7 linked regions of the Homo sapiens genome follow. The protein of the gene in region 5 purifies or fractionates together with the protein of the main gene of each other region. This does not show direct contact. Each region holds a gene or a part of one and is shown on either strand. Other genes may lie near its edges. The genes, in order: RNMT, DYNC2LI1, TMOD3, PPFIBP1, TRIM58, ZEB1 and HMCES.

Evidence for each region.
Region 1: the proteins of TRIM58 (region 5) and RNMT purify together in Homo sapiens (co-immunoprecipitation; one large-scale study listed by IntAct). This does not show direct contact.
Region 2: the proteins of TRIM58 (region 5) and DYNC2LI1 purify together in Homo sapiens (affinity purification with mass spectrometry, with the first as the bait; one study listed by BioGRID). This does not show direct contact.
Region 3: the proteins of TRIM58 (region 5) and TMOD3 purify together in Homo sapiens (affinity purification with mass spectrometry, with the first as the bait; one study listed by BioGRID). This does not show direct contact.
Region 4: the proteins of TRIM58 (region 5) and PPFIBP1 purify together in Homo sapiens (co-immunoprecipitation; one large-scale study listed by IntAct). This does not show direct contact.
Region 6: the proteins of TRIM58 (region 5) and ZEB1 purify together in Homo sapiens (affinity purification with western blotting; one study listed by BioGRID). This does not show direct contact.
Region 7: the proteins of TRIM58 (region 5) and HMCES purify together in Homo sapiens (co-immunoprecipitation; one large-scale study listed by IntAct). This does not show direct contact.

What each region holds. Positions count from the first base shown.
Region 1 is NC_000018.10:13,750,673-13,754,172, reverse strand, and holds part of RNMT (mRNA cap guanine-N(7) methyltransferase), read right to left. Parts: intron 1,848-3,500; coding exon 1,746-1,847; intron 60-1,745; coding exon 26-59; intron 1-25. UniProt on the Homo sapiens protein: Catalytic subunit of the mRNA-capping methyltransferase RNMT:RAMAC complex that methylates the N7 position of the added guanosine to the 5'-cap structure of mRNAs. Binds RNA containing 5'-terminal GpppC.
Region 2 is NC_000002.12:43,805,039-43,807,774, forward strand, and holds part of DYNC2LI1 (cytoplasmic dynein 2 light intermediate chain 1), read left to right. Parts: intron 1-115; coding exon 116-208; intron 209-1,172; exon of another isoform or gene 1,173-1,353; coding exon of another isoform or gene 1,354-1,373; intron 1,374-2,736. UniProt on the Homo sapiens protein: Acts as one of several non-catalytic accessory components of the cytoplasmic dynein 2 complex (dynein-2 complex), a motor protein complex that drives the movement of cargos along microtubules within cilia and flagella in concert with the intraflagellar transport (IFT) system, facilitating the assembly of these organelles.
Region 3 is NC_000015.10:51,836,153-51,839,652, forward strand, and holds part of TMOD3 (tropomodulin-3), read left to right. Parts: intron 1-3,500. UniProt on the Homo sapiens protein: Blocks the elongation and depolymerization of the actin filaments at the pointed end. The Tmod/TM complex contributes to the formation of the short actin protofilament, which in turn defines the geometry of the membrane skeleton.
Region 4 is NC_000012.12:27,530,706-27,534,205, reverse strand, and holds part of PPFIBP1 (liprin-beta-1), read right to left. Parts: intron 1-3,500. UniProt on the Homo sapiens protein: May regulate the disassembly of focal adhesions. Did not bind receptor-like tyrosine phosphatases type 2A.
Region 5 is NC_000001.11:247,870,687-247,874,186, reverse strand, and holds part of TRIM58 (E3 ubiquitin-protein ligase TRIM58), read right to left. Parts: intron 1-3,500. UniProt on the Homo sapiens protein: E3 ubiquitin ligase induced during late erythropoiesis. Directly binds and ubiquitinates the intermediate chain of the microtubule motor dynein (DYNC1LI1/DYNC1LI2), stimulating the degradation of the dynein holoprotein complex.
Region 6 is NC_000010.11:31,525,216-31,527,759, reverse strand, and holds part of ZEB1 (zinc finger E-box-binding homeobox 1), read right to left. Parts: intron 1,089-2,544; coding exon 496-1,088; 3' UTR 1-495. UniProt on the Homo sapiens protein: Acts as a transcriptional repressor. Inhibits interleukin-2 (IL-2) gene expression. Enhances or represses the promoter activity of the ATP1A1 gene depending on the quantity of cDNA and on the cell type.
Region 7 is NC_000003.12:129,302,870-129,306,686, reverse strand, and holds the end of HMCES (abasic site processing protein HMCES), read right to left. Parts: intron 2,099-3,817; coding exon 1,862-2,098; 3' UTR 501-1,861; downstream 1-500.

The sequences.
Region 1 (3,500 bases), on a different chromosome or scaffold from region 5:
TAATCTATGCTGATGATATACTCACTTGTAGCTTCCCATTCTGATTTACTTAAGGTTCCCTAAAATTACAAAAGAGAAAAAGAAAATTTTAGATTCAATATGGAAGTAAACATATGCTTATTTCTAAATAATGGGCAGAGATGGCCAAAAGACCCTAACTTCACTGTAAATACACATTCGATTCACTGTTAATCATATTGTGACCTGAGCATATAAAAGAAATCGGTGAGATTCACTTTGAAAGTCATCTTCTCAGACTTTTATCCTCCTGCCAAATTCTCAAATTCTCATCCAAAGGGTGAATGTGTGTGAAGAGGGCATTGTGTGTGTGTGTGTGTGTGTGTGTGTGTGTGTGTAACTGGAAAATGCATCTATCTTGTATTATTTTTTTTTTCTTTTTTTGAGACAGAGCCTTGCTCTGTCGCCCAGACTGGAGGGCAGTGGCGTGATCTTGGCTCACTGCAAGCTCTGCCTCCTGGGTTCATGCCATTCTCCTGCCTCAGCCTGCCGAGTAGCTGGGACTACAGGTGCCCGCCACCACGCCTAGCTAACTTTTTGCGTTTTTAGTAAAGACGAGGTTTCACCGTGTCAGCCAGGATGGTCTCAATCTCCTGACGTTGTGATCCGCCCGCCTCAGCCTCCCAAAGTGCTGGGATTACAGGCGTTGAGCCATTGCGCCCGGCCTATCTTGTATTCTTTCTTTTTTTTGAGACAGAGTCTGGCTCTGTCGCCCAGGCTGGAGTGCAGTGCTGCGATCTCGGCTCACTGCAAGCTCCGCCTCCCGGGTTCACCCCATTCTCCTGCCTCAGCCTCACAAGTAGCTGGGACTATAGGGGCCCGTCACCACGTCCAGCTAATTTTTGTATTTTTAGTAGAGGCAGGGTTTCACTGTTAGCCAGTATGGTCTCGATTTCCTGACCTCATGATCCACCTGCCTCGGCCTCCCAAAGTGCTGGGATTACAGGCGTGAGCCACTGTACCCGGCCCTATCTTGTATTCTTAATTTGGAAAATGAAAAAATAAAAAAGGCCTATCTTGAAATATCAAACAGCACTGGTGGAAAAAATACAATTTTTGTGTTTTTTCAAAGGAATAACAAAATAAAGTACATATCACACAAAGGAAATAAATTATATTTATGTAGCTATCAAAATATTAAAGATATGTGTTGCTTTGCACACACCATTAACTATAATAACAAGATCTAGTGGCAGTTCTAGTGATGTCATTTTTCCAGATGTGATAAATGAAAACAATATTCTAAGATATTAGCAAAAATGTGCTATGAAAATATCTGTAACTTCTACTGATGACAAAGTCACAGCAGCAGCTAATACCACTGTGGTACTATTGTAGTAATCATTCTTAAAATGTAAACTTTTACGCAGAAATTAGTATAGGTGAAGATGTAATTTTTTCCCATTTAAATTCCTGGACTGCTGCATTCTATGTATGAAATGCTGTGGTTCATTGGTGCCTACATTAGCAGGGAACTTGCACACCAACCCTGTAATTTTTTCACTGTCCTCATTGCCTTAGATATAGCACTCCATTCTCAGTCCATTGAAATAAATTTTATTCCATATTCTGTGGTTATAACAAGTCAACATCACTTAGTGGAAACAACTGATTTGTAAGTCAGTGAGCCTAAGTATTGTAAACAAGTGAAATCATTTCCTATGTCTCCATATAAGCATGTTCTTTTTTTCATTCTCTATAAAATACTTTCATAAATTAAAACTTACCAAAGGTAACCTTACTTGACTGTTCTTCATGTACTTTGCTGCATGTTCATAGTCATCCACCTTCTCAGAGACAAGTTTAGAACTCTCATTTGCAGGATATGGCTGGGGAAAGAAATGAAAGTCCTAGTTACAATAACGGAAATTTACAATTCAGAATTAAACATGCTAAATCACTGAAATAACATAATTAGGAGAATAATCCGTAAGTACTACTTCAGGAATACAAACTATACATACTTTTGAAATACAGAAAAAAATTAAAAAAAAGGAAGAATCCTCTCTTAAACCAATTTTTTTTAAATATTATACTAGGGTATATTATTCCAGGGTACATGTGCAAATCGTTCAGGTTTATTACATAGGTATACATGTGCCATGTTGGTTTGCTGCACCCATCAACTCATCATTTACATTAGGTATTTCTCCTAATGCTATACCTCCCCCAGGCCCCCACCCCATGACAGGCCCCCCGGTGTGTGATGTTCCCCTTCCTGTGTCCATGTGTTCTCATTGCTCAACTCCCACCTATGAGTGAGAACATGTGGTGGTTGGTTTTCTGTCCTTGTGTTAGTTTGCTTAGAATGATGGTTTTCAGCTTCATCCACGTCCCTACAAAGGACATGAACTCATCCTTTTATATGGCTGCATAGTATTCCATGGTGTATATGTGCCACATTTTCTTAATCTAGTCTATCATTGATGGACATCTGGGTTGGTTTCATGTCTCTGCTACTGTGAATCAGTGCTGCAATAAACATACGTGTGCATGTGTCTTTGTAGCAGCATGATTTATAATCCTTTGGGTATACACCCAGTAATGGGATTGCTGGGTCAAATGGTATTTCTAGTTCTAGATCCTTGAGGAATCGCCACATTGTCTTCCACAATGGTTGAACTAGTTTACAGTCCCACCAACAGTGTAAAAGCGTTCCTATTTCTCCACATCCTCTCCAGCATCTGTTGTTTCCTGAATTTTTAATGATCGCCATTCTAACTGGCGTGAGATGGTATCTCATTGTGGTTTTGATTTGCATTTCTCTGATGACCAGTGATGATGAGCATTTCCTCTGTGTCTGTTGGCTGCATAAATGTCGTGTTTTGAGAAGTGTCTGTTCATATCCTTTGCCCACTTTTTGATGGGGTTGTTTTTTTCTTGTAAACTTGTTTAAGTTCTTTGTAGATTATGGATATTAGCCCTCTATCAGATGGGTAGACGGCAAAAATTTTCTCCCATTCTGTAGGTTGCCTGTTCACTCTGATGATAGTTTCTTTTGCTGTGCATAAGTACATCTAATTTAGTTTAATTAGATCCCATTTGTCAGTTTTGGCTTTTGTTGCAATTGCTTTTGGTGTTTTAGTCATGAAGTCTTTGCCCATGCCTATGTCCTGAATGGTATTGCCTAGGTTTTCTTCTAGGGTTTTTATGGTTTTATGTCTTACATTTAAGTCTTTAATCCATCTTGAGTTAATTTTTATATAAAGTGTAAGGAAGGGATCCAGTTTCAGCTTTCTACATATGGCTAGCCAGTTTTCCCAGCACCATTTATTAAATAGGGAATCCTTTCTCCATTGCTTGTTTTTGTCAGGTTTGTCAAAGATCAGATGTAAACTAGCATCTTTTTTTTTTGAGACAGAGTCTTGCTCTGTCTCCCAGGCTGTATTGCAGTGGCAGGATCTCCATTCACTGCAACCTTGGCCTCCCGAGCTCAAGTGATCCTCCACCTCAACCTCCTGGGTAGCTGGGACTACACGCAC
Region 2 (2,736 bases), on a different chromosome or scaffold from region 5:
ATCATAGAGAGCCTTTGTGGCAGGCTGAGGAATGGGAGCTTGGTTTATTAGGCAGATGGTAGCCATTGAATTTTGGTTTATGGGCGTGAAGTGATTTTGAGATTTGTAATTTCAGAGTATTAACACGCTGAAAGATATCAAGGACCCTGCGAGAGATCCTCAGTATGCTGAAAATGAAGTCGATGAGATGAGAATTCAGAAGGATCTGGTATTATCCTAAACATTTACTTAATTTCATCTGAAATTTTAACACAAAACCTGGGGTGCCTTGGGAATTCCTTACATTTTTCTCTATGTATTTACTTAGAGTATCTTCTTTACTATTAAAATTATTTAAGTAGTACATCTATTTAAATAACACACTAATAGTATACTGTAGAAAAAATAAAAATTTGATATGAATAAAGAAAAATTTTTAAATCACCTGTCATCCCACCACCCAGACATGACTTAGTGTTCACATAAACCTTTTTGATTTTCCAGTTTTCATTATATTAAAGATGAGTGGTGATTCTTACCTTGCTGCTGGAGAGACATTTTCTTAATAGTCTTTGGTTTGTGGAATTACATGAAGAGCTTTGTTTTTGATTAGGACATTCAGACATACCTATACTTTCCTTGTACTAGAAAACGTATCTTGCCCAGTTAAGGACTGAAAGCACGATCTGAAAGCACACAGACATACCTGACATAACCCAGGTTCTCTCAGGAAAATGCTTAAAAGTGGACACCACCATCCCATGTATCACTAGATAGCCCCATTTGAACACACAAGTCTGATGTAAGAATGTTAAGAGTTGGCAAATTCACCATCACTCAAATACTTAGATTTTTCTTTTCTTTTTCTTTTTCTTTTTTTTTTAAGACGAGTCTCACACTGTCGCCCAGGCTGGAGTGCAGTGGCATGACCTCGGCTCACTACAACCTCCGCCTCCCGGGTTCAAGCAATTCTCTGCTTCAGCCTCCTGAGTGGCTGGGATTACAGGTGCCTGCCACCACACCTGGCTAATTTTTTTTGCTTTTTTAGTAGAAACGGGGTTTCACCATCTTGGCCAGGCTGGTCTTGAACTCCTGACCTCGTGATCCATCCGCCTTGGCCTCCCAAAGTGCTGGGATTACAGGCATGAGCCAGTGCGCCTGGCCTAGATTTTTCTAAAAACAAACAAGCAAACTTAGATTTTAGTTTTATTTGATAAAATGAGACGTTGTACAGAATCTGTCCTTATATGAGTAAACTTATATATGCTAAGCACTAGATCGAAAGCCCCAGCAACTTCTCAGGTGGCAGTCACGTTGTTGCGAGGGTAACCTGAAAACAGCTGTCAGCTGGGAGTAGGAGCCAGGGTTTTTTTCTCAGTATTCACCTTCGGGGGCTGTTGGAGAAGTAAGCAAAACATTTTATGTAAACGGTCCAGAAGACTTTTGAAAAATATGCCATGAATATTTAGAGGTTTTATAGCTGTAGCAAAGTGAGAGGCATGTTGTAGAAACAGGAAAATGACCTTATGTAACCCTTATTATGTTTGCAGCCTGGCTATAAGGATTAGTTGGAAGTCATCCCTGATTAATATTTATCTAGGAGTCAATGATTAACTGTTGTTGTTGATAAGAATATCTGTTTATATTGTATAATGATCACTTTTATTAAGTTCATATACATCAGTATTATTAAAGGATTAGGGTATTTGTGAGCATCATGAGTTTTCACATTCAAATCTGTCTTCTCTAAATGACTTAAAACCATAAGAATTTTGTGTGGAAAAGGAAGGCAGCCCCACAGTACCCATATCACCCTTCATTCATCTCTTGTATCTCACTGCCAGCAGATCACCAATTCCTGTCATCTCTTGGTTCGAGATTTTTTTTTAACCTACCTGAAAAGTTATGCTGTCCTAAGTTTGCCTCTAAACCACTTTTATTTGTGTGGTTTTAGACGAATTGATTCCAGATTGCACACACAGGACCTTAACATAATTTTATGCTTTAGCTGTAAAGATACCCTAACAATTACCAGTGTTGTTGCTGTTATTTCATTGATAATCCGAATCTAAATTTTGACATTCTACTATATAAAATTTTTAATTTGAATATTATTTCATACTATTTCATGAGTAGTTGTGAGACCTTAAGTTGTTTCCAATTGTGTGCTGTGAAGTCAGTCCTCAAGGATCTGAGGATTGGTAGGAAGACCCCTTTCATCTTTCCTGCAGACTTAGGGTCTTTCGTGATTAGCCCTCTTTAATTATTTAAAGTTCTGTCTTTTGCCAGACTTCACATGGGCACCAGAAAATACTTAAGTAGTATTTTCTGTTTTTTAAAAGTCCTCTAGCTTTAGAGCATTCCCGATTTTAAGGGAATGCGAATGTGGAAAGCACTTGCTGAGCCCTTCTACCTCTTTTGTGTTTTTTTCTTTTTCTTTGATACTGTGTCTTGCTCTGGCATCCAGGCTGGAGTGCAATGGGGAGATCATGGCTCACTGCAACCTTGAACTCCAGGGCTCAAGGGATCCTCCCATCTCAGCCTCTCAAGTAGCTGGGACTACAGGCACACATCACCATGCCCGGGTAATTTTTTTGTTTTTTGTTGCCCAGGCTGGTCTTCAACTCCTCGCCTAAAGCAATCCTCCTGAGTTGGCCTCCCAAAGTGCTGGGATTACAGGCATGAGCCACTGTGCCCAGCTTCTTTTCTATTATTTTTGTTAAAGCAAAAAAAAAAAAAAAAAAAAAAAAAAAAAAG
Region 3 (3,500 bases), on a different chromosome or scaffold from region 5:
CACACCATACAATTCACCCATTTAAAGTGTACAGTTCAGTGGATTTTGCTACATTCAGAACTGTAGAACCATCACCACCATTTTAGAACATTTTCATCACACCAGAAATAAACCCCTTACCATTAGCAGTTACTACCTAATTCCTCCCAATTCCCCCCTGGTCTCCCCCACCCAGCCCTAGGCAACCACTAATCTACTCTCTCTTAAGATTTGCCTCTTCTGGACATCTCATATAAATGGAATCATATAATATGTCATATTTTGTGCCTGGCTTCTTTCACCCTTATACTACTCTTAAGAATTCGTTTTCACGCCTATAATCCCAGCACCTTGGGAGGCTGAGGCGGGTGGATCACGAGGTCAGGAGATCGAGACCATCCTGGCCAACATGGTGAAACCCCGTCTCTACTAAAAATACAAAAATTAGCCAGGCATGTTGGCACACACCTGTAGTCCCAGCTACCCGGGAGGCTGAGGCAGGAGAATCGCTTGAACCTGGGAGGTGGAGGTTGCAGTGAGCCGAGATCATGTCACTGCACTCCAGCCTGGTGACAGAGTGATGCTCCGTCTCAAAAAAAAAAAAAGAAAAAAGAAAAAAGAAAAATACTGAAATACAGTCAAGGTTCCTCCTGAGATGTGCACCCTTTTTGAGCTATAAAGATATCCACTGCCTCGGGTATATATGTTCAACACCTGCACCCACTCACTAAGGAAGGAACACAAACACACTAAGACAAACTTACAAACTAAGGTAACATATACAGTGATGATAACCCCCTACAAATAAACAGTTTCATATCTGGGCATAACTAAGCATGAACATCATGATAAGTACATACAAGTGAACACAGTTCCTGAAGTGTCTGTGAGAAAGTGAATAAAAACATGGTAAACTAGAAGAAAATGAGGGCTGGGTTTGATATATATATATATAGACTTGTAGGTAAGAAGATTGTTGTATTTCCTTAACCATAGCATAGCAATTCTTTTGAGCAGGATATTATTAGTGATACTTATACAGTAGGGGATTTCCATCCATGTGGAAAATTACAGCCAACAAAATATTTTCATTCCCTGGGTGTGGTGGTAAAACTTTGATGAGGAGTTAAGGAATATTCAGAAGAAGCCCCTCAAATGTATATGAGTCTGGCTTATATTCAGGCAGCCCTTACCCTGAGGCAAACGTGACAAGATATGATACAACCCCCAAGATTTATTTTCATTCATGGTGGGCTATAATTAACCCAGGTTAATACTCTTAGGGAACTATTCTTTTTTTTTTTTTTCCTCTTTAATGTGCCCACTTGAGTGCTAGACCAGCTGAGGAGTTGGGGGTCTAATTTCACTGGAAATAGCAATAAATATGTGATGATTTCAAAGTCATGCCCACCCCACTTTTGTTTTTCTCCTGTTGTCCCTAAGATTTACAGTTTCTTGGTGAAAAATTACAGAACCCTACACAGAAATGGACCAAGGCAGATGTGTAGGATTTCACCTCTGCAAGGCCTTCGGGGCAGGTGGGCTCTTCTGTTAGTCCTCAGCACACCCTCTGTGCTTGCCTTTCCTCTGCCACTTTTCTTGAACCCCCATTATTATTCCTTGTCAAGTCATCTCACTTCCTGCTTTCCTTAGACATTGGCCAGCATTCCAAGTGATATAGTGTGCCCTCCACCAGAGAATAGCTGGCACTGCTTTAAGCCCCTTAGCCTTCCCTCCTACCTCAGAAGAAACTGTTTCCTCTTTTCTTCTCCCACTGCCTGAATCTGGTATAGCACACAAGGGGAGCCTCTGCAGAAATGTTACTTGAACTGGTCCCTGAAAGATGTGAAAGGATTTGAACATGAGAAAGAGTGCAAAAGGACATTTCCTGTGTAATGAACCGTGTGATGTAAGGGCTGCAGGCGGAAGAGCATGGAGGCGTACTTACTTCTGTGTAACACAGGGTGTGTGAAGATCGCTCCTTTCCCTTTACTTTTCTTCTTCTTGCCCTGGATTCCCTCCCAGCTCCAACCTTTTTCAGCCTGTGCTTTGATCTCTTTGTTTAGTATATACTTCTCCACTCCTCTCTGTGTAGCTAATTCTGTCCCTCCCTGACCACCCACAGTGATCTCTGAATTTCTGTACACTAATAGCCAGTACCATTCTTTTGGCAGTTAATTATATATTTTCTTGAAAAAAACAAAAAGCACTTTATGTGCATGTCTCATTTTCCCAAATAGAGTATGTTAGTCAAGGTGTTTAGGTCTCCGGGAACACAAACCCACTTAAGCTATCTTGCTAGATGGTATGGTGGCAGAGCTGGGAGTTGTACTGCATTACTATTGTAAGGCTGCTGAGGTCCGTGAAATGACCTACCACTGGTACCCAGAGCAGACACTTTGAAAGTCTCTGTCCTCTCTCTGCTTGTAGGGCTCTCTTTGGCTTCTTTCTGTGCCTCTGCTCCATTTTAGGACATTAATTTTAATTTTTAAAAAATAGTATGCATTACTGTGTAATTTATCTTGATTGCTGAGCTTTTTTGCACCCTATTAAATACTGAGACACCCTGAGGCAGGTGCCTCCTTTACTTTTTCCCTGTAGCCCCAGCCCTGCTTCATTCTCTTCCCTGCAGACTGACCTTCTGTGCTTTCCCCTTAGCTTCAGCTTCAAGGTGACTAGCTTGTTATGGTAGTGCCTCCAGACTTGGTGATACCTTATGTCTCAACTTGAGTTTTGTCTCCCAGCTTTCCAGATTTCTGGAGAAGAATTGAATTTGATCCGTCCTGGTTAGATTGAGAGTGGTGACCCCTGTACCAAACAGCTGTGAAAGATGTGGCTTTGTTATGTTGTTTCTTTGGCTGTATATTTCACAGGGACTGGAATAAGGGGTGGGTCCCCCCACACAAGGAGGTTTGGGGTTGTTCATCTCAAAACATGCTTATTTTGATGTCAGAAGGAAGTGACCATGCCTTCTCTTTTTTGGTATGTTCCCTGCATCTGGCAGATTGACAGCTAAGAAATAGGTGTATCTCTCTTTTTTTTTTTTTCCATTTTGTTTGAGACTGGGTCTCACTCTGTTGCCTAGGCTGGAGTGCAGGTGTGATCATAGGTCCCTGCAACCTCCGCCTCCCAGGCTCAAGCAATCCTCCCACCTTAGCTGCCCAAGTAGCTGGAACTAAAGGCACGTGCCACCATGCCTGGCTAATTTTTTGTAATTTTTATAGAGATGGGGTCTCTTTATGTTACCCAGGCTAGTCTCAAACTCCTGGGCTCAAGCAGTCCTCCTGCCTTGGCCTCCCAAATTGCTGGGATTACAGAGGTGAGCCACCACACTCAGTCTTCTCTTATTTGGTGTCTATTTATTCCTATGACTTGCCATTTGACCATTAGGATTAACTTTTAGGTATAATAGTCAATTCAGAGCAATTTTTTTTTTCGAGACAGGCTTTCGCTGTCATCCAGGCTGGCGTGCAGGTGTGATCATAGCTCACTGCAGCCTTGAACTCCTGAGCTCAAACAAT
Region 4 (3,500 bases), on a different chromosome or scaffold from region 5:
TTTGGGTCTAGCCCCATCTCTCTACCCTGGACCATGCACTCATTCCTTCCTCCCTTTTTCTTCTTTTAATATCCTCCTCTCTACCTGAGCCTTCCTCAAACCCAAGCTATCTACCATGTCTCTCTCGGATCAGTTCCTTGAAAGGATGAACTAACCAGGCCACCTGCAGTTCATCAGCCCCCGTGTAGTCCTCAATTTTTTGCATTCTGGATTCCAGGTTCATGAACTGACCTGACAGCAGGACCAGGGACAGTCTGTTGGATACAGCTTTGTAACGAGTCTGTTGCACTGGATGGCATGATTAGTTCACTTACGTTGTGCTTCTTCCCTTGGCCACCATCATCCTCCACTTCTCTGCAGATCCTGCTCTATCTCCTCTCCTAACTTCTTTTTTGCCTGACCATTTCTAAATATCAGGAGTCCCCTGAAGACTGTATGCTTGCTTCTCTTTTTACTCTACATACTCTTGTTCGGGGAGCTCAACCATTCTCACTCTTTACATAACAGCCCTATAGAGATGATCCATTAGTCCAGGCTTTGGCCTAAACTCCAAGCCTAAATTTCTAAATTCTTGCTTAACATCTTCATATGAATAATGTCAACTAACAGTTCATACTGGCTTTTAACACCCCAAGTACAGAACCATGCCAGAGGTAGGACTATGAAGAGGCTGAAGATACTGGCCCTGGAGCTGCACCTGCCTGAGTTCAAATTCTGAGTCTGACACACATGATCTGTGTGATCCTGGGAAAGTTACTTAGCCTCCTTGTGCCTCAGATTCCTCATCGTAATATGGGATTAATCTAGGTTGAAATATTTAAGGTGCTTAGAGTAGTGCTTGGTACATAAAAAGTATAACCTACCAGGTAAGTGTTACCTATTATTATTGTTATTCTCCTAAAAACCTGATAAGATAGGTATTATTATTTTATCCATTTATACAATGAGAAAATTAAGGATAATGTGGGTCATGATGGAATTTCAAACTCCAGATGTTCAAATCTTAACTCATATTTCCCATTAAAATTCAACTTTCACTTAGCCAGGCATGGAGGCATGTCCCTGTAGTTCCAGCTACTCGGGAGGCTGAGTCAGAAGGATTGCTTGAGCCCATGAGTGCACAATGATCACAACTGTGAATAGCCACTGCTCTCCAGCCTGGGCAACATAGCAAGACATCATCTTTAAAAGAAAATTAACTTTTGTATACGGGCCATTCTTGATTTAGGGTGTTCTGTCCTTCTCCCTCCCCTTGCCCATATACCCACTAGAAATACCCAATCTGCTATTTCCAGAGTCATTTTTATAAAACAATAGTTCCCTTACTTCTTCTTTTCTTAAAAACATCCTGTTTTAAGGTACAATCTTGTCACTCTCTTTAAAACCCTGTAAGATTTGCCCCAATATAGCTTACGTCTTTTCAAACAATATTGTTCTCTCTTTTCTCTAAATCGAATCTCACTCTATTCTACATTTTGCTCCAAACCCAAGTATGCTCATCTGTCCCCACTGCCTCCTCAAAATCTCCTCCCCACCCTTTAAGACCCAGTCAAATCCCACCTCTTCTAATGAAACCTCAAGAAACCCAGTCTCTTCCTTTGCTCTGGTGACTAGTCTAGTTCACAGAATGCTCTTCCCCAACCAACCTCCAAAAGGACCAATAAATAGATGTTTAAAATTTTAACATATTTTGTATTTCTCGAGTAATGTAATATAGATGTAATATACTGTAAAAAAAAAAAAAAATACAAAGTTCCCTTCATCCCAACTCCCATAAGCCATCCCACTTGGCAGTTTTTCATGCACTGACAAATGTAAACCATACACGTGTGCTTGGTTTTTTACTTCTTAAAATATATATAATAGACATCTGTACAAGTCAGTATATTCAATCTTTTTAACAGCTAAACAGTATTCTAAATCTGCATTTTATTACAGTTATGAATAAGGTGTGCCATCTCTTTCTGCCCCCATCTCCTGTATGTGAATACTCTTAAGGTAAAGATCATGTTTTGTTTGTCTTTCCGTCTCCAAGAGGATCTTGTACCAAGGCTGGGAATTGCTTAACACGTGCTTAATGAAATAGTAACAACAATATCTGTCATCAAAGCAGTGCATGTCGTGTGCCAAGAAACCAGCTGTTAGTGCTTCACATACATTATCAGATGTAATCTTCATAACCACCCAATTATTCCCATTTCACAGAAGACTTAACCAAAATCACACAGCTAGTAACAACAGGGGATTCTAATCCACATCTGTCTGACTCTGGAGTCCCCGCCCTTCATCCCTATGCTATAGTTAATAAAATTTTTATAAGGACATCCTTATAAACCAAAGCTGGAAAACAGAAGAGTTCCAAGTAGTCTGGTGTGGGCAGGTGGGAATGAGGATAAGAGACAGGAGGCGGAATAAATGCCAAGTAGATGGAGTCAAGGGATTGTAGCTATAAACCTACCGAGAACCTTCTAGGAGAAAGAGCTGAATTCTTTGCCTCCCCCTTTCAGACTCCCCACTACACTTCCCTTTGGTAACAGTGCCACCATTTGTTGAAGATCTTCCATGTGCTGAATATGCCATTATTATTCCTATTAATAATTTCTGGCCGGACGTGGTGGCTCATGCCTGTAATCCCAGCACTTTGGGAGGCTGAGGCCAGCAGATCATCTGAGATCAGGAGTTTGAGACCAGCCTGGCCACGATGGTGAAACCCTGTCTCTACTAAAAATACAAAAAAAAAAAAAAATTAGCTGCTCATGCTGGTGGGGACCTGCAATCCCAGCTCCCTGGGAGGCTGAGGCTGGAGAATCGCTTGAACCCAGGAGGTGGAGGTTGCAGTGAGCCGAGATTGCAACACTGCACTCCAGCCTGGGTGACAGCACGAGACTGTCTCAAAAAAAAATAATAATAATTTCTAATTATTTCTAATCCTTCAAAAAATGCTATGGCACATATATCAGAGCTACCATTTTATAGATGAGAAAGCTGAGACCCAGAGAGGTTAAGTTACTTGCCAATATTAGACTGTAATAAATAGCAAAGCCAGGATTCAAGTTGAGGATCTGCATGGCTCCAAAGTCCTGTTTTTCTCGTACAAAATAACACGTTTTTATTTTTAAAGAAAAGATGAACTATGATTTTTAGACATCTAGACTCAGTTAAGATCACATTTGGCTGCAAGTAACTGACCCAAGTTCTGTGGTTTAACCAAGTAGAGATTTTATTTTTCTCACAGAGTCAAGAAATGGGTCCAGTAGAGCAGTTGCAGAATGCTATCAGCTTCTCAGCCTCCTTCTAACCTTCCACCCACTCATCCTTAACCCTCAAGCATCTTGTCTTTGGTCACGCGATGGCCTGCTTACTTTCTCCAGGGAAGAAGTACAAAGAGCAAAAGGCTTAACAGGCAAGCTCACAGAGGCTTCCCCTTTTAAGAGCTTTGGGGAACGGGGCATCCAGCTATTTACATCTCATCAGCCAGGACTACTGTCACTGAACCACCT
Region 5 (3,500 bases):
AACCATGAGCCAAAATAAAGCATATTTCCTTATATTAATAAATTACCCAGCCTCAGGTATTTCTTTATAGCAATGCAAAATCAGACTAACATGTTAATATAGTTTGATTTTTAATATCAGAACAAATACTGTTTCTACTGCTACTGCTACTGCTACTGCTACTACCACTACCACTATACTTATTTGCCTTTAAACACTTACAGTGAACTACTTTTTTTTTTGAAACGGAGTCTCGCTCTGTTGCCCAGTCTGGAGTGCAGTGGTGCAATCACAGCTCACTGCAGCCTCCACCTCTCAGACTCAAGCCATCCCCTGACCTCAGCCCTCTGAGTAGCTGGGAAGGCACACACCACCATGCCCAGCTAGTTTTCTGTATTTTTTTGTAGAGAAGGGGTTTTGCCATGTTGCCCAGGCTGGTCTCGAACTCCTGGGTTCAAGCAATCCATCCGCCTCAGCCTCCCAAAATGTTGGGATTACAGGCGTGAGCTGCCACGCCCGGTCTAGTGAATTTTTATTGATACCCAACCTGAGTGGTCACGTAACTGCGCATTGCATTATTTTTATTATGTAACCACCCTGAGGGTCACCATTGTCATCCCTACATTACACAAGAGTAGATTCAGAGTCAAAGAGTTTATGTGGTCTTCCCAAACTCTAGAGGTAAATAACAGAGATTGAAAGGTAGGTCTCCATGGATTGTGCATTTAACACAATCTAACAGGTCATGTATTCCCAAGCCATTCCTCTTCCGGCACAGTGGTCTGCTTCATTTCTAACAAAAGAGATCTGTGAAATGGCTTTTGATATGGTCTGTATCCCATTCCTCTCCCTACCCCTTCTCTCCTAAACTCAATTCTTCATCATGATGTGACCATACCCCAACCAAACTGCGCATGTCCATCTTCCCAGGGACCTCCGTGTTGATGAATGGTTACTTGTCAGTTTGTCTTTTTTTTAAGATGGAGTTTTGCTCTTGTTGCCCAGGCTGGAGTTCAATGGCATGATCTTGGCTTACTGCAACCCCCATCTCCCGGGTTCAAGTGATTCTCCTGCCTCAGCCTCCCGAGTAGCTGGGATTACAGGCATGCACCACCACGCCTGGCTAATTTTGTATTTTTAGTAGAGACAAGGTTTCCTCAGGTTGATCAGGCTGGTCTCGAACTCCTGACCTCAGGTGATCTGCCCGCCTCGGCCTCCCAAAGTGCAGGGATTTACAGGCGTGAGCCACCGCGCCCGGCCCAGAGTTCATCTTCAATGATTTTTCTGTATCTCTCAACACTGAGAATCTACTTGTGCTGGAAAATCTCCCTTTTCCAAAGGTAACACTCATCCATGTTTCCCTTCCCTCACTGCTCACTACTCCTTGATCCTCTTTGCTGTTCTCTTCTCCTCCACCACCACCACTGGAGAAACCTATAGTCCCAAGACTTGGACTTCTTCTCTCTCTCTCACCTCACTCCCTATCTACCCGGGTGCTGGCTGGTTCATTGCTTTGATAAAATTCCATTCATATGCTGACTGATTCCCAATGCATGTGCTTAGCTTTGAACTTTACCCTGAAACTCCCTATTGTACATTCATCTGCCCACTTGATAGCAACATTTGAATATTTAGCACTCATCGCAACATCCACATATCCAAAACCCTGTGCCCTTCTTCTGCTTCAACTGTCGCTTTCCTCATCAATATAAGTGGCAATCACATTTTGCCAGTTCGCAAGATCCAAAACCTTGGAATCATTCATGGCTCTTCCTGTTTATAGCACATCATATATAATCCAACAGCAAATCTTAACAGCTCTGCCTTCAGTATATAACAAAAATCTGTCCATCTTGCGGCACCTTCCGTAATAACATCTATTCCAACACATAATCATCTCTCATCAAATTACTGCAAAGACCCTTAACTGCTTTTCCCATGTCAATCTTCTCCTCTCTGTAATTTACTTACAAGAAAGCATATAGAGTGATCCTCATAAAACATTAGTCCAATCAAACTATTTTTCTAGGTACAACTTTCAACTATGTCCTATTTCGCTCAGGGATAAAGTATCATGCTCAGCATGGCCTGCCTATCTAGCCCTTTCTTGGTCTCTCCGACCCTCCTGTCATTTACTCTGCCACAGAGTCCTCACACTGACATCCTCACAGCTCCTGGAACACACCTGCCATCCTCCACGTCAGGCCTTGGCGCTCATTTCTGCTGCCTGAATGCTTTCTTCCAGATCATATATTTGCTGGGTTATCCCCTGCAGGGCGGGGTCTTTCCTGGTCACCTTATTCAAAACTAGAACTTCTCATTACCCTTTGCATACTCTTTTTGATTTTCTTCAATATTCTGTGTCAGCCACTTACAGCCTGTGTATTTTGGTGAAGTACATATCTGCAACACAAAGCTACGGATTGTAGAGTATTTTGTTGTTGTTGTTGAATGATATATTCCAATGTTTAAAAGAATGGGTGAGATAAAATTAATCACACATTTTGAATGATTTCATTCCATAAAAACAAATATGGATATGAGGTTGCTGAGTCTGAGGGTGCCATGACGATTTTAATCAAGTTGGGCATTTAGCATACATTCATCTACCCAGGAGAACGTGGGTACTATGCTGCAGAGATGGGTTTTCTCATTAAGGGACTTTACACTCTTTCCCTCTAAGTAGTGAAGTCACTATTTAGACATAGTTTTCATTACTTGGGATAAATTAGATTTTAAAATGAAATTGTAAACAATACTGAATCTATACTGTTTTAAAGAATAATACAATCAGACTAAACACACTAATTTTTTGTGACACTGCTTATTCCTACATGAAAATAACTGACAATATTTTTGGCTTTATTGACTCACTAATTCAAGCAACTCATCAAATTCTCAGCCAATAAATTAAACCAAACTTCTTGCTAATTGATAACTTTGCAGTGCTTTCATATTGATTACTTTTAGGAGGTGGGGTGCTTTCAAATGTTTCATTTTGTCCTCCAAGCAATTTATTTTTAGCATTTTATAAGCAAGGAAATGTAAATTTACTGGAAGTAACGTTACTCATATCAGCTAATAAGAGATGACCTACAGTTTTAAGCCCATAGTCTAACCAAATGTAGACTCTATGGGTGGCCGTGACTCTGATACTGCTCATGAATATACTAATCCTCGTTCTTCTGGGCGTGGTGGTGCAGGCTCTATGGGTGGCCGTGACTCTGATACGGCTCATGAATATACTAATCCTCGTTCTTCTGGGCGTGGTGGTGCAGGCTCTATGGGTGGCCGTGACTCTGATACGGCTCATGAATATACTAATCCTCGTTCTTCTGGGCGTGGTGGTGCAGGCTCTATGGGTGGCCATGACTCTGATACTGCTCATGAATATACTAATCCTCGTTCTTCTGGGCGTGGTGGTGCAGGCTCTACGGGTGGCCGTGACTCTGATACTGCTCATGAATATACTAATCCTCGTTCTTCTGGGCGTGGTGGTGCAGGCTCTACGGGTGGCCGTG
Region 6 (2,544 bases), on a different chromosome or scaffold from region 5:
TTCTCACATTTTAAAAAACATAATAAAATACTGAAGCGGATTTAGCATATGTTTACCAATAAAAAATTATAAAATTTCTCCCAATTGTACAGCTTAAGAATAAACCAACATAAGAGTGATAATACTGATAAGATAAAACAATGCCAGATGCATATCTAATTAATCAGCTTCCTTTAACCTCTTGTATTGTTGCTCTCTGAGTCATTAAGGTTTTCTAATCTGCTGCATGTTACAAACTTGTTCCTAACTTTGAAAACTGCATGAAAAATTACTAGGTCTGAGGTTCAGGCACACCCGGATTTATTTTGTGTGTGTGTGTGTGTGTGTGTGTGTGTGTGTGTGTGTGTTTTGTATTTTGTATTTTTTTAGTTTTTACTTTACACAGTAGTGAACAGGAATCACAGCATACAGGTTACTGTGTTTCCATGAAAAGCAAGGATAATATTGAACGAAATTCATTATCAATTAGAATTTATTTTCCTTCTAGAAAAACGATTAGGCTTCATTTGTCTTTTCTTCAGACACTTGCTCACTACTCTCGCCTACTTTTTGTCCTAAGCTGCTTGCTTGACTTTCAGCCCTGTCATCCTTCATCAGACCTTCAGTTTTTGCTTCTTCTCCCTCATTCTCTGCCTCTTCTACCTCTTCTTCTTCCACTTCTTCCTCCTCCTCCTCCTCTTCCTCATCCCCTTGTGGTTTTTCACATTCTTTTTCTTCCTGCAATTCTTCCATCTCTTTATCCTCCTCCTCTTCCTCTTTTTCACTGTCTTCATCCTCTTCCCTTGTCAAACTCTCTCTCTCGTCCGAGTCGCCCTGTGAGGGAGACGCCCTGGCACCCACGTGCTCATTCGAGAGGATTTCAGGCCCTGCCTCTTCCTGCTCTGTGCTGTCACGTTCTTCCGCTTCTCTCTTACAGTAGGAGTAGCGATGATTCATGTGTTGAGAATAAGACCCAGAGTGTGAGAAGCGCTTTCCACATTTGTCACATTGATAGGGCTTTTCTCCAGAATGTAATCGCATGTGTTCAATCAAATGATGTTTGTGTTTAAATGCCTTTTTACAGATTCCACACTCATGAGGTCTTTTACCTGCAAAATAAGAATTCTGTTAAATAAAATGGTGGTATTCAGCAAATAAAATCCTTATACGGTTTTTGGGGTACTTCATGTTGTAGAAAGGGGAGGGTTATTAGTTTCATTTTTAAAACATTTCCAGGTCCCAAACTCTTTGTAATATAATATTGCAATTTGGTTTGTTCTTTACATTAAAAAACGTAGTGCTCTACACTCTGCTGTGCAGATGATTAGGTCAATGGGAGCTACATGACATTGAAATGCCAAAAATACAAGCATCATGACAGCGAGGTGGAAAATGGGCCAAGTGCAGCTGGGAGGAGATGTCTGGTAGTGAACGAGCACAGTGAGGGCAGACAGGGACAGACTTGCTGCTCACCTTGTGTTCATTATCACTACAAGGTCCCTTTTTAGTCATTTTGTTTTCCTAGTCACAAGCTCTGCTCCCAGTGAAATTTTAATGTTTACTATACACTTTTTATATACGATAAAACTCATAAATATACAGTATATATACTGAGCTTCTTTAGAAAACCACAGCCATTGTAGTATCTCAGACTTTTTTGCCCCCTAAGAAACAAGTTTTGGCCCGTGAGGGCAATATTGCCCCTCCTGAGAACGCATGGGCTACAGGAGTGTTGCTGCCCAGACATGAAAAGGACTGGCAACAACTGATCATAGTCAGGATCGATAATGTCCAATTTCAGAGCTATCAAGCAGTTAACACTAACAAATGCAGAAATGATTTTTAATTTTAGAAATAGTGTAGTTTTTCATATATATTTTTCACTTTGATATTTGCTAATATTTAACTTTGCCTGAAGAGGAAGGGGATTTTCTAACTCTTCTTAGATCTCTGAAAACCAGAGGACTGAGTTACAAGGGGCTGATTTTGAGAGGTGTGACTTTCTCTTATGTAACCAGTTTTTAGCTCCAAGAACCTTCCAAGTGTCACTGTATGAATCCACAGATTGAAGAAGGAAAAACAATTCTATCTTTTCTCACAAGAGTAAAAAATACACTGAAACAGTTAAGAATATGAAAGATAAATATGGATACTGTAGTCATAATGGCTGGTAGTGGGGGCAGGGAAGAGCAGGTAGGGGATTAAAGAGCTCAGGATAAACCCAGCCCCTTCTACAGCAACCCATGTTAGAGAGAGACACAGGAGTGTGCTGGAGCCAGTTTGTACTGGCTGGAGAGAGTCTACTGCTAAATTTTCAGGAATTCTGCAAGCTGACATCACATTCAAGCTCGAAATCCACCATGATGGGAGTATTTATGCCACAAAAAGCTGCAAACACTACAAATCAGGGCTTCCCCACCCTTCAGAGAACCAGGTGTTAAAATTTATCAGTACTTCACTGATGGAAGGAATGAAATAGGCCAGGAGTTGGCAACTATTTTCTGTAAAGGGTAGTGAGTATTAAAGGCTTTGCAGGCCAAATGGTCTCTGTAGTAGCTTCTCAAT
Region 7 (3,817 bases), on a different chromosome or scaffold from region 5:
ATACTGTATGCTCTCAGACATAAGGATTTGCTTTTTTTTTTTTTTTTTTCTGAGACAGAGTCTCACTCAGCTGCCCAGGCTGGAGTGCAGTGGCGTGATCTTGGCTCACTACAACCACCGTCTCCCGGGTTCAAGCGATTCTCTTATCTCAGTCTCCCAAGTAGCTGGAATTACAGGCACCCAACGTCATGCCCGGCTAATTTTTGTATTTTAGTAGAGACAGGGTTTCACCATGTTGGCCAGGCTGGTCCTGAACTCCTGGCCTCAGGTGATCCACCTGCCTTGGCCTCCCAAAGTGCTAGGATTACAGGAGTGAGCCACCTCGCCCGGCCAGGATTTGCTTCTAACATCACGTTTATATGAAAGTATAAAAACTTGAATGAAAAGGAAACAAGCCCCTGCAGGCATTATATTCTTTCATGTTAAAATGAAAAGACCTCACCAAACTAATTTGCAACCATGAGAAACAGTGGGGAGATGATAATGAAAAACAAAGGGAATTTCATTTTTGTCATTTATTAACCTGGAAGCAAATATGACAAAACAGTCATACTAGTAAGTCATCTGAATTTTTTAAATCTCTTAATAAAACAACCAAATCCCACGCAAATCAGTCCACAAGGGAGGCCCCCGCCTCCACAGTGCAGGGTGACTGAGTGTACAACTACGGGCCAACCCCCGCCTCTCAACCGGAAGGGAGGGCACTCAAAAGAGGAATTTAGAGAAAAGGCGGAGAGGGCGGACCTCGGGAAAGGGTCTGGGCGGGAGCCCCACCTGGCTCCCCACCCCTCCCGAAACCAGGGGAAAAGCCTGTGGCGTGGCGCTGCTGTCTCCCATTAGCAGTTACAGGGCCGAGGCTTCCCGCTGATTGGTGGAAATTCCGATCTTCTGATCCCTGATTTGCATAGAGACTGGGGCCTGCACCCCCGCCCCCCACCAGCAGCAATCGGCCAACGCCAACGGTGCTGCGCCAGGAGCGTTCTGGGCTCGGCGCCGCCCAGTCCTCCTGGTCATCTCGGAAGCTGTTTTCTTCCAGCTGCTTGGGACAGCTTTTGTGAATGCCTCCCTTAGGGATGTTCGAAAGAGGAGTGGCCCGACACTGCTAGAAACTGGTCCTTTCCTTCCCACCTGTGGTAAGGATAGTTTCTGCTACGGCAAGCACTCAAACTCAGGCTGGTTTGAAGCTAAAGGATTCAGACGACTTCCAAGTATCAAGAATGAAAGAAAAAGAAACATAATAAGGAGCCCACCACCAAGACTTGTAGTTATTTCCTCAGAAAGCCCCCATGCCCCATTTGTGACAAAATCCATTCCTGAAGACTGATTCTAGAAGAAACCAAGTAAGATCTAGAACTTTCCCCACCAGCATCACTTTCCAAAATGTAGGCAGAAGTTTACCAAATACAATTTATTCAGGAAAAAAATAAATTTTAAGAACTTATTTTTATTTTATTTTAGAACTTAAAAATAAATTTTTAAGAACTAAAAAAGTGAAAGAGCCCAGTGGCTGAGCAGAAAACAGCTTACTACAAGGAGTACCAGATCAGGGCAGAGACTTCCCAGCTGGGTAAGGCATGCTTTGAGGGAAGACTCCACCAGCCCTGCCAGGAAAGGGCAGCAGGCGCAGTGCCCCTATGGGGCCCACATGGCTGGTAACAGCAGCAGGACACCTCTTCCAAAGCTGTCCACCAGCCCCACTAGGGGCTCCTACTCATGGCAAAAAAGACTACATGAGCCCACAACTGTCAACTAACACAGTGCCACCTCCTCCCAAAGCAAACACATATACATACAATGTTAAGAACCTATTATCAGAACAGCAGTGCAGCAGACCCTGGCCTTGGTCTCTGAAAGTCCTGTGTCACTGGCTGTAAGGACGCTTGGCCACAGGTTCCTCCTCCTTCTCCCGCTTCAGCCATTGCTCTAGGAGTCCTGCAGTGCCTCTCTTGGTGGGGAGTGGACTCTTCTGCAGGAACTGACTGGACCACTGGGGAACATCTGACTCTTCCTTTTGAGGTGTTTTTGAGTCTTCCTTTTTGGGTGACTTTGTGGCCAACCACTGCAACATCCTCTGGCTACTGCCACTTGCCCTGAGCTCCTACAAGAAAGAGGAAAAAGCTCAAACCATACAGCTCAAGCTTTTGGGAAAAGGCCAAGTCCAAGGGAAGAAACAGGGGAAGAGGCATTAGGTACTTACCCAGGCTTGGAAAATGTTACTAAGGGCCAGCTGGGGCCCACCAGTCAAGAGTGGAAAGAGAGGAGTGTGCTCTAAGGGGCAGGAAAGTAGATCTTAGAGAAGGTTTCACAGAGGATTGTGTGGGACCAGCCAGAGAAGAGAGCTGAAAGGCATTCCAAATGTGCAGAGAATGAAGCATTCTCAGGGAAAAGAATGTAATTCAGCATGACCCAGGGGGAGTGTTGGAAAACGAGACTGGAGAGATACAGAAGAATTTCTAACAGCCACTGTGATAAGGCTAAATTGTTTCCTCTTTGTGCAGACAATCTGTACAACCTCTTCTTGACTGTCACTACTCCCTTCTGCTTCCTTTACATCACACCCCAATCCTGAACTGAAAGGTTCTGAATTAGCACAATGCCACCTCTCCAGAATGTGACATCTTTTGGAGTAAACACCATGGCAGGGCTAGGTACAGTGGTGCATGCCTGTAATCCCAGCACTTTGGGAGGCTGAGGTGGGAAGATCGCTTGAGCCCAGGAGTTTGAGACCAGCCTAGGAAACATAGGAAGACCCCATCTCTATAAAAAATTTAAAAAAATGAGCCAGGCATGGTGGTGTACGCTTGTAGTCCCAGCTACCTGGGAGGCTGAGGTGGGAGGATCATTTGAGCCCAGGAGTTCGAGGCTGCAGTGAACTATGATCATGCCACTGCAGTCTAACCTGGGCAACAGAGCATGACCCTGTCTCTAAAAAAGAAAAAGGAAAAAAAAAAAGACCATGGCAGAAATGGGCAGCGTCTAGTCCAAAATGAATACAGGTTGAGCATCCTAACCCTGAAAATCCAAGATCCAAAATGCTCCAAAATCCTAAACTTTTTAAGTGCTTACATGACTTTGAAAGGAAATGCTTGTTGGTACATTTCAGATTTAGGATATTCGGCTAGGAAGTATATAATGCAAATATTCCAAAATTTGAAAAAATTCAAAATCTAAAACACTTCTGTTCCCAAGCATTTTGGATAGGGATATTCAACCTGTATATAGAATTAGTTTTAGAGTTATCTAATTTTTAAAAAGTGCCACGGTTGCAGGAGTTTATCAGAATCAAAACAAAAGAAAAAAAGATGACACTGTGGGTATGGAAAAAACTTTAAGAAAAATAGAGAGGGGGACAGCTGTTCTTACAATCATCCTTAACACGGCATTCTAAAATGTCTATTCTTGGAACATTCCAAGTATGTCCTATTTTAAGTCCCTCCATGCCACCTAAAAACAATCACTACTCCTAAATCCTTACCCCCAAATGTCAGTGGGGGCCAGCTTTTTGCTCTGGAACTTCTCTCCCCACTGCAGGCCTTCTGTTTGTTTGCCTTCCCTTCCTAAAATACACCCTCTGGATCCTTGCTGATTCTAAGAAGTTAAGGTTCATGGTAGGAATGCTCTCAAATCCTCCTGAAGGAGACTAAGGACTGGAGCTCCTGCAACTTGTAGTTCGGAAAGCAAAGATACAGAAAAGAGACACCAAAAATCATGGTTGGGGACGGAGAAACAATATGGTCAAGGGCTCCTTTGTCTTTTTCACCATCACTGTCTAGATTAGGAGTCCTCAAATGTGGTTTATCAGACTCATCAAAGAAGC